Linked DNA regions of Homo sapiens. The protein of the gene in region 1 interacts with the protein of each later gene in a pairwise test. Each region holds a gene or a part of one and is shown in the gene's direction. Other genes may lie near its edges.

Region 1 (9,211 bases):
TTTCAAGTTAAGGATAAGGCACAATAAATAGGCACATAGAGGACATCTGTTTTTGTTTTTGGTTTTGGTTTTGTTTTTTTTTGTCTCTCTGACTAGCTAAACTGCCAACTAGAAGAATGGTTGTTATGTAGTAACTCAGAAGAATCTTTTAATAAGTTTCTTCTTTTGTTTCAAAACAAACTTGAGCTTCATTTCTTGCCACCTCTATTCTTTCTTCCCACGTTGGGTGACTGAACTGATGCTTATTCTAGTTTTAGAAGAGGATCCACATTTAATGTAAGGCATAAATATGCCTTTTGCAAATTATTGCTTGTTCTCCAGTGAACATTTGATCATATTCAACAGAAATCCACCATATAAACCATAATCCTTGAATTGCCCCTTTTAAAATAGATTGGTTAAAACCAAAAACCTATAAGAGAGAAATGATATTTCATTGTATTGTAGGTTTGGGAATCCTGGTTAGATTTATAATTTCTGGCCGGGTGCGGTGGCTCATGCCTGTATTCCCAGTACTTTGGGAGCCCAAGGTGGGTGGATCACCTGAGGTAAGGAGTTTGAGACCAGCCTGGCCAACATGGTGAAACCCCATCTCTACTAAAAATACAAAAAGTTAGCTGGGCATGGTGGTGCGCGCCTGTGGTCCCAGCTACTCGGGAGGCTGAGGTGGGAGAATCCCTTGAACCCAGGAGGCAGAAGTTGCAGTGAGCTGAGATCATGCCATTGCACTCCAGCCTGGGCAACAGAGCGAGACTTCATCTCCAAAAAAAGAAAAAGAAGAAAAAGATTTATAATTTCTGAGTCCCCTAAGTCCCTTTCTCAGTTTGCAATAATCTTACGTCCATGCTATTGACACTAATTTTGAAACTGGAAAGCTAATTAATGACATATTCATGTGTTCTTTCATCTAATAAACATTTATTAATGTATAGTTCTACACCAGGCATTCTGAAGGGTCCAAAAGAAAGTTCCTGCCCTCTAGTAGCACATAATCCGTTATTTCTCAGCACACCATGCCATCTGTTTATCATTCAGCAGTTAAGTAATTCATCACTTCATATTTTTACCAAAGTATATTTACAAGTCTGTTTATCTGGATCTGGCAAACTGGAAAATGTTTGAAGGGATACTCAGGCTTTGATCCATGCCAACATGAAAGGACTCCAAGCACATTTAAGTAGGCTGGTCTTTTCATCATGCATGATTTTTTTTTTAGTGCAAATTTAGACTTTAGTTTGGGAAAGAGAACAGTATACAGTATCCTTTGTAAGATAAATCACAACAACAAAAATTAAGTTTTATTGCACAAAGTAGATAAATGAGAAAGTCTTTCTTAAAAAATGCTTCTTTAACTGTAACAGCAAAACTAAATGCATATTTTATCAACCCCTTATTTCTAATTGCTGTATTCATTTCCACCCTTAAACTATTTAAGCATTTCATCTGCTGAAAGTCCTTATATACATGGTAGACGGAATATTTCTCCATTAATGATAGATCAAAATGAAGATATTTAAAAATTAACAAAATCAGGCCAAGGCAGGAGGATCACTTTAGCCCAGGAGGTCCAGACCAGCCTGGGCAACACAGCGGGACCCCGACTCCATTTAAAAAATTAAAAAAAAAAAAAAAACTTTTAACATTTAAAAAATAAAAATTAACAAAATTTCACTTATTCCAGGACACGCTGGCATTTGGACTCAATGAAAAGGGCACCTAAAGAAAATAAGGCTGACTGAATGTTTTCCATAATTTTCACACAATAACAGTCCCTTTCTATCCAGCTTGCCTTCCATTTATCTCTAGGGTTAGCTTTTCAGGCAACATCCTTGGTCATTGCCCAGAAAGTACCTGAGCTATCAGTGATTGGAATGGCACAGGAAACCGAATCACATGGGTGCCCTCCCCTTGGTTTTCAAGTATCTTGGAGTTGTGCACAAAAATTAGGTCATGCCTTCAGTGTCTTGTTCTTTAAACCTACCCTTTGACAATCAGGTGCTAATGATTGTATACTATTAAAACCAGCACATAAGTATTGTAAATGTGTGTTCCTCCTAGGTTGGAAGAAATGTCTTTCCTTCTATCTGGGTCCTGTTAAAGCGGGTGTCAGTTGTGTCTTTTCACCTCGATTTGTGAATTAATAGAATTGGGGGGAGAGGAAATGATGATGTCAATTAAGTTTCAGGTTTGGCATGATCATCATTCTCGATGATATTCTCACTTTGTCGCAAATCTGCCCTTATCGTAAGAACAAGTTTCAGAATTTTCCCTCCACTATACGACTCCAGTATTATGTTTACAATCCATTGGATGAGTGCAGCATTATAAGACCTTGGTGCCCAGAAAAATCTGTCCTTTTTGGTACCAAACCTGAGGTCTTTTGGAAGATAATGTAGAAAACCACTACCTATTGAAGGCCTGTTTTGGCTAATCTGTGCAAACTCTGATGATACCTGCTTATGTGGATTCTTTTCCACACTGCTTTCATTTTTAAGTATAAAGACTTAGAAAACTAGAATAATGCTTTTACAAATAATTAAAAGTATGTGATGTTCTGGGTTTTTTCCTTCTTTTTAGAACCCTGTATTTAAACAAGCCTTCTTTTTAAGTCTTGTTTGAAATTTAAGTCTCAGATCTTCTGGATACCAAATCAAAAACCCAACGCGTAAAACAGGGCAGTATTTGTGTTCCTAATTTTAAAAAGCTTTATGTATACTCTATAAATATAGATGCATAAACAACACTTCCCCTTGAGTAGCACATCAACATACAGCATTGTACATTACAATGAAAATGTGTAACTTAAGGGTATTATATATATAAATACATATATACCTTTGTAACCTTTATACTGTAAATAAAAAAGTTGCTTTAGTCACGTGGGTTGTTTTTTTTTTCCAATTTTTAAAATGCTGAAATAGTTTTGAACCTACAGGAAAGTTACAAAAACAATACAAATCTTCTTCACCCAAACCTTCCAGTTGTTAACATTTTGCCATATTTATTCCATTACCTTGTCTTTCTCTAATATGATTCTCTAGCACCCTTAAATTCTCTAGTGAGGACCTCCAAAACATAAGGACAGTCCTTGCATTGCCACCATAAAGTCCTCCTAATCAAGAAATCAACATTGGCACACCACCACTCATTCCATAGACCCCATTCAAATGATGCCAGCCATCCCGGCCATGTCCTGTTTTCCTCTCTGGCCTTGGATCCTGGCCAATACCACTTTCTTGCCTTTTGTCGTCGTGTCTCAGTTCTTCAGTCTGGAATGTTCCTCGGCCTTACTCTAATTCGCATGTGCCTGAGTCTCAGCACAAGGCTTTGATTGTTCAGCACAGCTCTCCAGCTGGCTCTATTCGGTGTTGCCTCACAACCAGGCTGTGTCACACACTCTTGGCAGAGATGCCACGATGCCATGCTCTCTTCAGGGTATCATGTGGAGAGACACACGAGGGCCACGCATCCCACCACCAGGGGTGTTCCCTTCGGTCGCGTAGTCAAGCTAATGTCCTCATTGTTTTCTCCTTTGTATTTATTTATTTATTTAGAGATGGAGTTCCGCTCTTGTCGCCCAGGCTGGAGTGCAATGGCGTGGTCTTGGCTCACTGCAACCTCCGCCTCCCAGGTTCAAGCGATTCTCCTGTCTCAGCCTCCCAAGTAGCTGGGATTACAGGTGCCCACCACCATGGCCGGCGAATATTTTGTATTTTTAGTAGAGACAGGGTTTCACCATGTTGGCCAGGCTGGTCTTGAACTCCTGACCTCAAGTGATCCACCTGCCTCGGCCTCCCAAAGTACTGGGATTATAGGCGTGAGCCACCGCGCCCGGCCTCTCCTTTGTATTTAATTAGCATTTTGTGAAGAGAGATTAAGGTGTGCCAATTTTTTGGTTTTTTTTTTTTTTTTTTTTTTTTTTTTTTTTTTTTTTTTTTGGAGGCAGGGTCTTGCTTCATTTCCCAGGGTGGAGTACAATGGCCTGGTCACGGCTCACTACAGCCTCGACCTCCCAGGCTCCAGCAATTCTCCCAACTCAGCTTACGGAGTAGCTGGGACTACAGGTGTGCGCCACCATGCCCAGATACGTTTTTTATTTTTTGTAGCGATGGGGGTTCACCTGTTGCCGAGGCTGTTCTCGAATTCCTCGGCCCAAGCAATCGGCCTGCCTCGGCTTCCCAAAGTGTTGGGATTACAGGCATGAGCCCCCATACCCAGCCTCAACTTGGATGTTTTTTGCCCTCCATTTTTTTTCTCTCACAGGATAGACTTGTGGACAAATGGATCACTTGCCTCTGGTGCGTTTTTTTGTTTGTTTGTTTTGTTTTGTTTCTTAATTTAGCGACGAGGTCTTACTATGTTGCCCAAGCTGGTCTTGATCCTCGGCTCAAGCAATCCTCCTGCCTTGGCCTCCCAAAGTGCTGGAATTACAGGCGTGGGCCAGTACACCCAGCCCTAGAACTGCTTTGATCATTGTATCCCCAGAAACTAGCACACAACGCTGCACACAGTAGGTGTGCATGCCTGTAATCCCAGCTACTCGGGAGGCTGAAGCAGGAGAATCGCTTGAACCCGGGAGGCGGAGGTCGCAATGAGCCGAGATCATGCCACTGCACTCCAGCCTAGGCGACAGAGCAAGACTCCGTATCAATCAATCAGTCAATCAATCCAAGCAAAACAAAACTGGCTTTGAACAGTCAGCGGCATCCCACCAGGGATTGAGCCCCAGTGTGGGGCACACTCTGTTTACATTAGCTAGCTCATTTATTCCCCACAAAAGCCAGACAAGGCAGGTACTAATTATGATCGTGCGATATTAAACATGGAGAAACCAACGCTCTGATAAGTTCGTTTTATTGTGAGAATAAAACTGCTCAATGGGCGCTGTTATTCCAAGCGAGGTCAGGATTTCCGGATTCTACCCCGCTCCGCCCCTGGCCCCGCCCCGAGAATGTACGTCCCGCCAGGCCCCGCCCCGGCCTTGTCCCACCCACCCCGTCCCCGCCCCCTGTCCGTCTCGCCCTAGTCCCACCTCCTCGTCCCCAGTCAGTCCTGCCTCTCGAACCGCCCCCTGCCTTCGCCGAGGCAGGGAGAGGTGCCTGCAGTGCGAGCCGTGGACGCTAGGGGGCAGCCGCTCGGCTCGGGCCCGACCGCTCTGGGCTGCGCTCCTCGCTTGCCCTCGGACTCGGCTCCCGCTGCGAGCGGCCGCCCTGCCCGCGCACCGCGCTCAGCGCCCACCGCCGGGCTTCCCGCGCCGGACCCAGTACCTCGGCTCCCCGGGGCCGGACCGAGGCCGCAAGCAGCGCCGCGGGGTGTGGGGCGGACCCAGGAGATGAAATGACAACGTCAACCCTCCAGGTACTTCGTGCGGCCCGGCCCGACTTCGGAGGCCGAAGGCAGCGGGGCCTGCGGGCCGCAGAGCCGGGCGGCGGGCGGGTGGTCAGGTGGGCGCCTCCCAGCCCCGGCCTCGCGACCCCGCTCCGGCCGCCCCCTCGCCGCTTCCGCCCGTGTCTGTTTCCACGCGCTCGGAGCCGGGTGGCATCTCCACCCTCAGGCCTTCCGGCCCTGCCCGGCTGGCCCAGCCCCAGGGCCGCTTCGTGTAGCCGGCGCCCCGGTACCGCCGTGGGGATCAGCCTCACCCGAGCCGCACAGGCACCCTCAGGAAGCTCGGCCCGGGGTCCGGCTGGGCGTTCAGACAGCGATGCTCGCTCCCTCCTCTCCTGTCTCGCTCCCTCCTCTCCTGTCCCGGGTCCTGGAAGTCCCTCGACCTCACTTCGAACAAGCCCCGGCCCCTTCCCCAATCTTCGACTTCCTCTTCTCGGCCAGCGACCCTTCATTCATTCCCTAGATCCTGCAGGGTGGTGCTGGGATGGCGCCACCTGGGTGAACAACTGACCCACCCTCTAGGTGCTGTCAGTCCTGCGGGGCCAGAAGAGATCAACATGCTCAGGCCTCATTCCGGGGTTTGAATCTCAGCTCTGCCACTCACCAGCAAGTGACCTTGGGCTAGTTTTTTTTTTTCATCTTCGGGTCTCGAGTTTCCTGGTCTGTAAAATGGGGTAATGCCCTCTAGGTTGTTGTGATGATAGCTTTAAATTGAATAATTACGGTAAAGCATTCTTGTATGTCTGGCACATAGTAGGTGTCCATTAAGTGACAGCCAACAAAGTGCCTGGGAGAGTTAGGCAAGACTTCATGGAAGAAGGGACATCAGAGTTCCAGTAGCATTCAGAGACCTGGAGGTGGAGGAGGGCAGAAGTAGGAGCAGACATGGAATGAGTTGGGGTACCAGGTTAGGAATTAAGAGTCCATAGCCAGATCCCACCGTACCACCAGCAGAAGCCGCAGATCCCGTCTGCCCAGGCAGGTTTTTTATGGCCCGTGAACCGAGAATGTTTTTCAGTTTCAAACACAGGTGTATTTATTTATTTTTAAATTTTATTTATTTATTTTTTTGAGATGGAGTCTCACTCTGTCACCCAGACTGGAGTGCAGTGGTGTGATCTTGGCTCACTGCAGCCTCTGCCTCTCAGGTTCAAGCGATTCTCCTGCCTCAGCCTCCTGAGTAGCTGGGATTACGGGCACCCGCAACCACGCCCGGCTAATTTTTGTATTTTTAGTAGAGACCGGGTTTCACCGTGTTGGCCAGGCTGGTCTCGAACTCCCGACCTCAGATGATCTGCCCACTTCGGCCTCCCAGAGTGCTGGGATTACAGGTGTGAGCCACGGGTCTGGCCTAAACACAGCTTTATTAAGGTATAACTTGCGTGCTTACCATATAACTCACCCGTTATATATTTTTGTTTTTATTAATTTTTTTTTTTGAGACAGTCTCATTCTGTCACCCAGGCTGGAGTGCAGTGGCACAATCTCAACTCATTGCGGCCTCCGCCTCCTGGGTTCAAGTGATTCTCCTGCCTCAGCCTCCCAAGTAGCTGGGATTACAGGCACCTCCCATCACACCCAGCTAATATTTTTTTGTATTTTTAGTAGAGACGGGGTTTCACCATGTTGGCCAGGCTGGTTTCGAACTCCTGACTTCAAGTGTGATCTGCCCACCTCGGCCGCCCAAAGTGCTGGGATTACAGATGTGAGCCACTGTGCCCAGCGCAACTCACCCATTTAAAGTGTATAATTCAGTGCTTTTAGTATATTCATGGTTGTGTGACCATCACCATAATCACTTTTTAGAATATTTTCATCACCTCCAAAAGAAACCCCTCACCCACAACCCCTCTCTCTCCCAGCCCTGGGCAACCACTGCTAATCTACTTTTTTTCTCTGTGGGTTTGCCTACAGAGAAACCCACTTTATATAAACAGAGTCATACAATAGGTGGTCCTTTGTGGCTAGCTTCTTTCATTATGACTTAACATAATGTCATAGGTTTTTACATTTTTTAAATGGCTTGAAAAACAGTATTTCATGACACATGAAAATCCTATGAAATTCACATTTCAGGGTCTATAAATAAAGTTTTATTGGAACACATCCCTGTTCGTTTATTGATATACTGTCTACAGCTGCTTTTGTGCCATCAAGGTAGAGTTGAGTCGTTGCTACAGAGATTATCTGGCTGGCAAATCCTAAATTATTTACCATCTGGTCCTTTACAGTAAGCATTTGCCAGCCCCCATTAGCACTCTTTTCTTTCATCCTCATCTTTTGCCATACGTGTTACTAGAGATGCGGCGGGGCTGGCAGTTTCTCACCTTACCCTCCTGTTCTGTAAAACTGTTTCTCTCCATTGAAACTTGGACCCCCTGTGTGTGAAAAACTGTATGTGGCTGCCAGAAAAGTCCAGTGCACTCTTTTTTTTTTTTTTTTTTTTGAGATGGACTCTTGCTCTGGTGTGATCTCGGTTCTCTGCAGCCTCCACCTCCTGGGTTCAAGCAATTCTCCTGCCTCAGCCTCCCAAGTAGCCGTAACTACAGGCACGCGTCACCACACCCGGCTAACTTTTTGTATTTTTAGTAGAGATGGTGCTTCACTGTGTTAGCCAGGATGGTCTCAATCTCCTGACCTCCGGTGATCCGCCCGCCTCCGCGTCCCAAAGTGCTGGGATTACAGGCATGAGCCACCGTGCCCAGCCCCAGCACACTCTTAGGTGTATTACTAGAATTTCCAAAAGGAGGGAGGGGATGGGTCAGTGCTGCTCCTTATGGGACAAAGAATACCTTCAGTATTGTTCTAAGGATAGACCCAAGCATGAAGCTACAGAGAGTGAAAAAGTCCAAGGTACTGGGGGTGTGTGTTCTGGAGACGAGAAGCCACCAGGGAGAGGAGCGCTGCCTTCCTGTCTCATCTGAAGGAACATCATGCAGAAGAGGGCAGACAAGGGCAGCCTGTGCCTAAGCTCATTTCCAAGAAGGTTTGGGGCTCCCAGCCATTCATTGTAGGTAGTAGAGGGAGCAGAGGCTTGAAAATAATGGCCAGCACTCACCCCTCTTCTCATCTCTTCAATCCGCTGAGTTCATTTCACATCAGCCTGGCCCAGCCTCCCCTGGCCTGTCTGTTTTGTCGAGCTGTCTGTGTGTGTTTCTTTCGGAGACTTCTTCCTTGCAGATAAGAGAGGGCTGAACAAATGCCCCGGCCCTGCCAAGAGCCGGTCAGGAGGTTTATTGTTTGCTGTGCCTGGAACCGTGGGTCTGCGGTGGGACTGCCTGCCTGGTAACTGGTGCCGGATCTGAGGAGGAGAATTCTGGTCATGCTTCGTGCAGGCGTTGGTGAAGCTGCGGTTTTTAAAACCAGGCTTTAAAACCATGTAGGTGCTTTACTGACCGGTCGCGGTGGCTCATTTCTGTAATCCCAGCACTTTGGAAGCCAAGGCGGGTGGATCACTTGATGTCAGGAGTTCGAGACCAGCCTGGCCAACATGGTGAAACTCTGTCTGCACTAAAAATACAAAAATTAGCCGGATGTAGTGGTGGGCATCTATCACTTGAACCCAGGAGGTGGAGGTTGCAGTGAGCCGAGATCGCGCCAGTGCACTCCGGCCTAGATGATAGAGTAAGACTCTGTCTCAAAAAATAATAATAATAAATAAAACCACGTAGGTGCTTTCAGTTCAGCCTAAGGCACTGGCCTACAGGATTTATGAGATTCCCAAAGACACTCATTCTCACAGAGCTCTTAGAAGGTTCCAGAGGGACACAGTTCTCTTCTGTTGGCAGCAGGGAGCAAGCAAGTACTTTTCTTACTGGAGCTACTG
Region 2 (5,766 bases), on another chromosome or scaffold:
TTCTTCAAGAGCCTCTATCTCATATCCTGCCAGGCGTGTGGCAGCCTTGGAAGCCAAGCAAAAGCCCAGCACTTCCCAGAGCCAGGGACTGACACGACAAGACCAGATGATTGCTGAGCGCCTAGCACGACTCCGCCAGGAGAACAAGCCCAGTGAGCAGGGGCAGATGGGGTTGCCTAGAGGACACAGTCCAGGGCTTCTGGGACTGAGATGCCTCTGGCCCTTACAAGGCTCCCCCCATGCCAATTGCAGAGTTAGTCCCCTCACAGGCAGAGATAGAGGCACGGCTGGCTGCCCTAAAGGATGAACGTCAGGGTTCCATCCCTTCCACCCAGGAAATGGAGGCACGACTTGCAGCGTTGCAGGGCAGAGTTCTACCTTCTCAAACCCCCCAGCCGGTGAGTGTTATGGCTTAGGAGAGAAGCGGGGGTGCTAGCGGGAGGACCCAGCAGAAGCCCAGATACAGGTATTGGGGTGATACAAAAGTAATTGTGGTTTTTGTCATTACTTTTAATTGCAAAAACCTCAGTTACTTTTGCACCAACCTTTGTACTTTATGTACTTTGCAGGAGTTGGCAAAGCCTCCCACCCCTACCTCCTGATCCTCAGGCCTGCTACCAGACCCGGGGACCAGGGACAAACAGCACGATAGGGTAGGGCAGGAAAAAGTGGCCCCTCAGTCCTGTTGGGGACGGCCAGACCTACTTGATTATGTGGGCCCTGGATCCCTCTCCTTTCCCTGGGCTTTGAGAACTACTTAGCATCCATCCCTGACCTAGACTGCTTCTGGGCTACCCCTGCTCTCCACTGAGGTTTCCTCGTCTGTGCAGGCACATCACACACCGGACACCAGGACCCAAGCCCAGCAGACACAGGATCTGCTAACGCAGCTGGCAGCTGAGGTGGCTATCGATGAAAGCTGGAAAGGAGGAGGCCCAGGTAACCCCTCCACTTGGCTCCCTAGGAATCTGCCCTACCTCTTTCCCCAGACTGGAGAGGCTCTGCTGTCCACCCTCTGGGAGATGAATATAAATCGGAGAGTGATCAACGTTATAAGAGTTACCATTCATTGAGTGCTTACTCCAAAGGGAGCCAGTGTAAGCCTAGTGTTTAAGTGCACGGGCTTTAGAATCAGACAGTGATTCCCATTTCTACCACGTATTAGCTGTGTGATGCTGGACAAGTTACTTGACCTAAGTCTCACTTTCCTCATGTGTAAAATGAAGGTATGTATGGAAAAACCTACCTCACAGGGAAATCAGGAGGAGTAAACGAGATAATCCAATAAGTGCTTGGGAACATACCTGACTCATAGTGAGTACTCAGTGAATATTCTCTGCAATCATGATGTTGATAAGGAGGAAGAAGCTATTTAGTAAAACCAGCCACATCTCAATGCTCAGTAGCCATATGGGCTTCATGGCTACCATCTTGGACAGCACAGATATAGAACATGATATGGAATGTTTCCATCATCATAGAACATTCTGTTGGACAGTGCTGTTTGAAGGCTTCAGAGCAGTGGTTTTCAACAAAGGATGATTTTGCCCCCAGGCTACTTGTGGCAACATTTAGAGACTTTTTGGTTGTCACAACCCAGAGGATATTACTGGCACCTACAGGATAGAAGCCAGGGATGCTACTAAATCTACTATGTCACAGGACAGCACATCATGATGAAGAATTACCCGGTCCAAAGTGTCAAGAGAACTAAGATTGAGAAGTCCTGCTTTAGAGGCACAATCTCATTGAATATCCTCAATAATCTTATGAGGCCAGGTGTGGCTCACGCCTGTAATCCTAAGCACTTAAGGAGGCAGAGGCAGGAGGGAGGATAGCTTGAGCTGGGGAATTTAAGACCTGCCTGGGCAACATAGCAAGACTCTGTTTAAAAAAAAAATCTTATAAGGTACATACTATTCTTTTTTATAAATGAGGAAACAGGCCTGGTGAGCTTGAGGAACTTGACCAAGGTCACACAGCTATTAAGCTGCAGAGATGAGACTTAAACCTAAAGCTGTGATTTTAAACCTCTTGCTCTGAAACACTAAACTGAAGGTGACTGTGTCAGAGCCACACCTAATCTGGTAAAATTCTTCCTGCCCAGTGATATACAAGCTCTTAGCTTCCTTCATTGCCCTCTCTGTGCTAATCCCAGGAGATGCTAATTCCTGCCCTGAAAGGCAAAGAGATCGGCTGAACCTGGGCCTTATCATGTCTTGATCCTTTAGGGCAGTGATTCTCAAACCATAGGACGCCCACCCTTAGGGCAGAATGTTAAAATATCAGGTAGATGGGGATGGATGTGGTTGGAAAAGACATGGGTAAAATTATTAGTTTTTTACATTTGGAAAAATGGAGGAATACTAATTTTATTTGTGATAGAAACCATAGGCGCTAGTGCTGAGCAAAAAGCTGATGATCTGTGATTAGAAAGGGTTGAGAAAAGCTGGGCATGATGGCTCACGCCTGTAATCCCAGCACTTTGGGAGGCTGAGGCGGGTGGATCACGAGGTCAGGAGTTGGAGACCAGCCTGACCAACATGTTGAAACCCCGTCTCTACTAAAAATACAAAAATTAGCCGGGCATGGTGTCACGTGCCTGTAATCCCAGTTACTCAGGAGGCTGAGGCAGGAGAATCGCTTGAATCCAGGAGGCAGAGGTTGCAGTGAGCTGAGATTGCACCACTGCACTCCGGCCTGGGTGACAGAGCGAGACTCCATCTCAAAAAAAAAAAAAAAGAAAGAAAGAAAGAAAGAAAGAAAGAAAGAAAAAATTATTAAAGAAAAAGAAAAGAAAAGGTTGAGAAATGGGCTCATTGGCTTCTGAGGAGAGATACTGGGATGTCTCGGCCTTGCTGATGGCATTACCCCTTCCAGCTGCCTCTCTCCAGAATGATCTCAACCAGGGTGGCCCAGGGAGCACTAATTCCAAGAGGCAGGCCAACTGGTCCTTGGAGGAGGAGAAGAGCAGACTGCTGGCTGAGGCAGCACTTGAGTTGCGGGAGGAGAACACGAGGCAGGAACGGATTCTGGCCCTGGCCAAGCGACTAGCCATGCTGCGGGGACAGGACCCCGAGAGAGGTGAAGGCTGGGGAGCAGCTGCTCACTGGTATCCCTTGGTCAAGGCCTCCCTGGCAGGGCTGAGTCAGGTGCTGGGGGTATTTGCGCCCAGAGATCTACTGAGCCCAGCCCAGAGCCACAAGGAAGGTGGTAGAGCAAAGCAGTGGGTGAGGAGTCAGGGGCAGCCATGAGGGCAGGGGACCTTCAGTCCATTCAGGGGCTGAGGCTTTCGCTCCAGCCCCCAACCTAGCCCTCAGGCCTGCTTCAGTGATGGCCCAGCCCTGCAGGGCTGGGGCAGGCAGGGACAGGTCATCAGGGTGGCTGAAGAGGCTTCTCAGCTCTGGAATAAGTGCCCCTGGGAACCGAACCAGTTCTGGGAGGCAGGAGGGCAGCCACTCATGTGAAATCTCTCACTCTCACTCCCCCATCCCCTGTTCCCATGTCTCCCTCTTCAAGTGACCCTCCAGGACTATCGCCTCCCAGACAGTGATGACGACGAGGATGAGGAGACAGCCATCCAAAGAGTCCTGCAGCAGGTGGGCCTGGATTACCCACCTGCCACCCCTTGTCCCGTCTCCGCCTCATTGCCCCACCTCTACTCTGGGGCTGGGTGGACAGTAACTGTGAAGCTCCTGTTCTCTTTGGGCCCCCTCCTGTGACCCAGACCCAGACCTGCCCACTGGTCCCTGGAGATAGGGAATCAGCAGCCACAGGCCACAAGTAAAGAAAAAGATGAGTTTGAGAAGCTAAGTCCACAGTGCACAGAAATACTGGGAGATGGAGGGCCTGGGCCTGAAGCAGGGGAGTAGTACATCTTCACCCTGTCCGCAGCTCACTGAAGAAGCTTCCCTGGATGAGGCAAGTGGCTTTAACATCCCTGCAGAGCAGGCTTCTCGACCCTGGACGCAACCCCGCGGGGCAGAGCCTGAGGTGAGAAAAGCCCCAGATGCAGACCCCCAGGCTCCCCCCAGCCTTGCTTCCTGCCTGGCTGACTGCTCCTGCAGCAGCTCACATACCCCACTGGGTACCTTACTTCCTCCATTCCTCTCTGATCCCTGAAGGCCCAGGATGTGGACCCCAGGCCTGAGGCTGAGGAAGAGGAGCTCCCCTGGTGCTGCATCTGCAATGAGGATGCCACCCTACGCTGCGCTGGCTGCGATGGGGACCTCTTCTGTGCCCGCTGCTTCCGGTGGGTGCAGGTGGAATGTTCTGTGCGAGAGCTCAAGGGCTGCCTGGATCCCTGACTTGTATCCCTTTGTTCCACAGAGAGGGCCATGATGCCTTTGAGCTTAAAGAGCACCAGACATCTGCCTACTCTCCTCCACGTGCAGGCCAAGAGCACTGAAGACACCCTGGTCCTCCCGGAAGGGCAGTCCCACAGGCAGCGGCACCCATTTCTGGGCCCAGCCACAGGACGTCCGATGGGAGAGCTTGTCTGGCTCTACTGATGATGGATAGGCCCCTTCCTGAGCCTTGGTGTCCCTGGAATGAGGAAAGATTCTCCATTCGAGAGAATGACTGGGAGGGAAGAAGTCGGGGCCCTCCTATTAGAAGCCCAGACTGGAAGTGAGAGGCATGATGGGGAGAGACCAGACTGAATCTACGGGTGAGCCCTGTAACCTGGCTCTAGGGCACAGGCCCCTCCCCTGGCACTTAGTGGGTCTAATAAAGTATGTTGATTCATTGGGCCCAGCATCTCATTTCTACAACCCTATGAGCCTGGGCCCTGTGAGAGGTGGCAGGAACAGAGCAGGCTGTAAGCACAGTTGTGGGGAATGGGGGAAAAGGTTGAGCCATCCTATGAACTTCTCCAGGCAGGAACAGCCCTACCCATCCTGGTGGCCTCATACGAAGTAAACATGTATTCATTCAACTCAACTGTGCTCCAGCTCTGGGCAGCCCCACTTAGCCACCAGTCCCCACCATCTTGGATTTCTCAGCCTCTCTACTACTCACACAATGCACGCAGGAACAATGCACACACACCCTGCTTCCTGCCTTACTGGCAAAGGACCCCAGCTCCTAGGGCTCCTGTCCCAACCTGCCTGCCATTCAGTCTCAGTATCTCTCTTCCAGTAATGCGCCCTAACCGGACCCCTGACCTCTCGGCATGTACCCTTTACATGCCTCTGCATTGCCTCTGCTGTTTCTCTTCCTGCCCCTGGCTGGAACCAACTATAAAGAGCCCTCGGGCTGAGGTCTACCTCCTGCATCACTTTTGGTTGGAAGAGCCTTTTCTGAGGCTCTCAGATCCAGCTAGGTTTTTCCTGTTACTTCCTCTCTGGGATTTGAAACTAGTCTTTGCCATTGGCGTCCCTCTTGTTGGTTATGCCAGTAGGCTGTGTACCTTAGGCAGATAATGTCTGCTTGGCCCCGAGGCCTTGCTAGATTGTGATCTCTCTGAAGTGGAGCTGTGACTTTCGTCTTTGAATTCTTGAGTCCTTTGGATGGATGGATGGATGAGGTGTGTGGGCACAGCCAAGTGACTTAGGTTGTGGCCTTCCTGTGTATCACTTCATTCTCTCCTCCCCTGTCCCTCAGCACAGATATGTTCCACACTCCATTGAGCTGGGGCTCCTAAAGGTTTTATCCACTTGGCTGCCAAGGAAGGCATTGGACAACAGCCAGCTTTCTCCCAGAGAGCCCAGCTGACAGAAACTAGCTGTGACCACACAGACAGTAGGAGTATGCAAATGTCCCTCC

What was found.
Region 2: the proteins of VPS4A (region 1) and ZFYVE19 interact in binary tests that used the Homo sapiens proteins (3 or more experiments, as listed by UniProt).

The regions. Positions count from the first base shown.
Region 1 is NC_000016.10:69,306,175-69,315,385, forward strand, and holds the start of VPS4A (vacuolar protein sorting-associated protein 4A), read left to right. Parts: upstream 1-5,175; 5' UTR 5,176-5,337; coding exon 5,338-5,358; intron 5,359-9,211. UniProt on the Homo sapiens protein: Involved in late steps of the endosomal multivesicular bodies (MVB) pathway. Recognizes membrane-associated ESCRT-III assemblies and catalyzes their disassembly, possibly in combination with membrane fission.
Region 2 is NC_000015.10:40,809,819-40,815,584, forward strand, and holds the end of ZFYVE19 (abscission/NoCut checkpoint regulator), read left to right. Parts: intron 1-33; coding exon 34-152; intron 153-252; coding exon 253-398; intron 399-569; coding exon of another isoform or gene 570-652; exon of another isoform or gene 653-653; intron 654-830; coding exon 831-939; intron 940-2,880; coding exon 2,881-3,084; intron 3,085-3,519; coding exon 3,520-3,599; intron 3,600-3,894; coding exon 3,895-3,993; intron 3,994-4,124; coding exon 4,125-4,252; intron 4,253-4,329; coding exon 4,330-4,408; 3' UTR 4,409-5,266; downstream 5,267-5,766. UniProt on the Homo sapiens protein: Key regulator of abscission step in cytokinesis: part of the cytokinesis checkpoint, a process required to delay abscission to prevent both premature resolution of intercellular chromosome bridges and accumulation of DNA damage.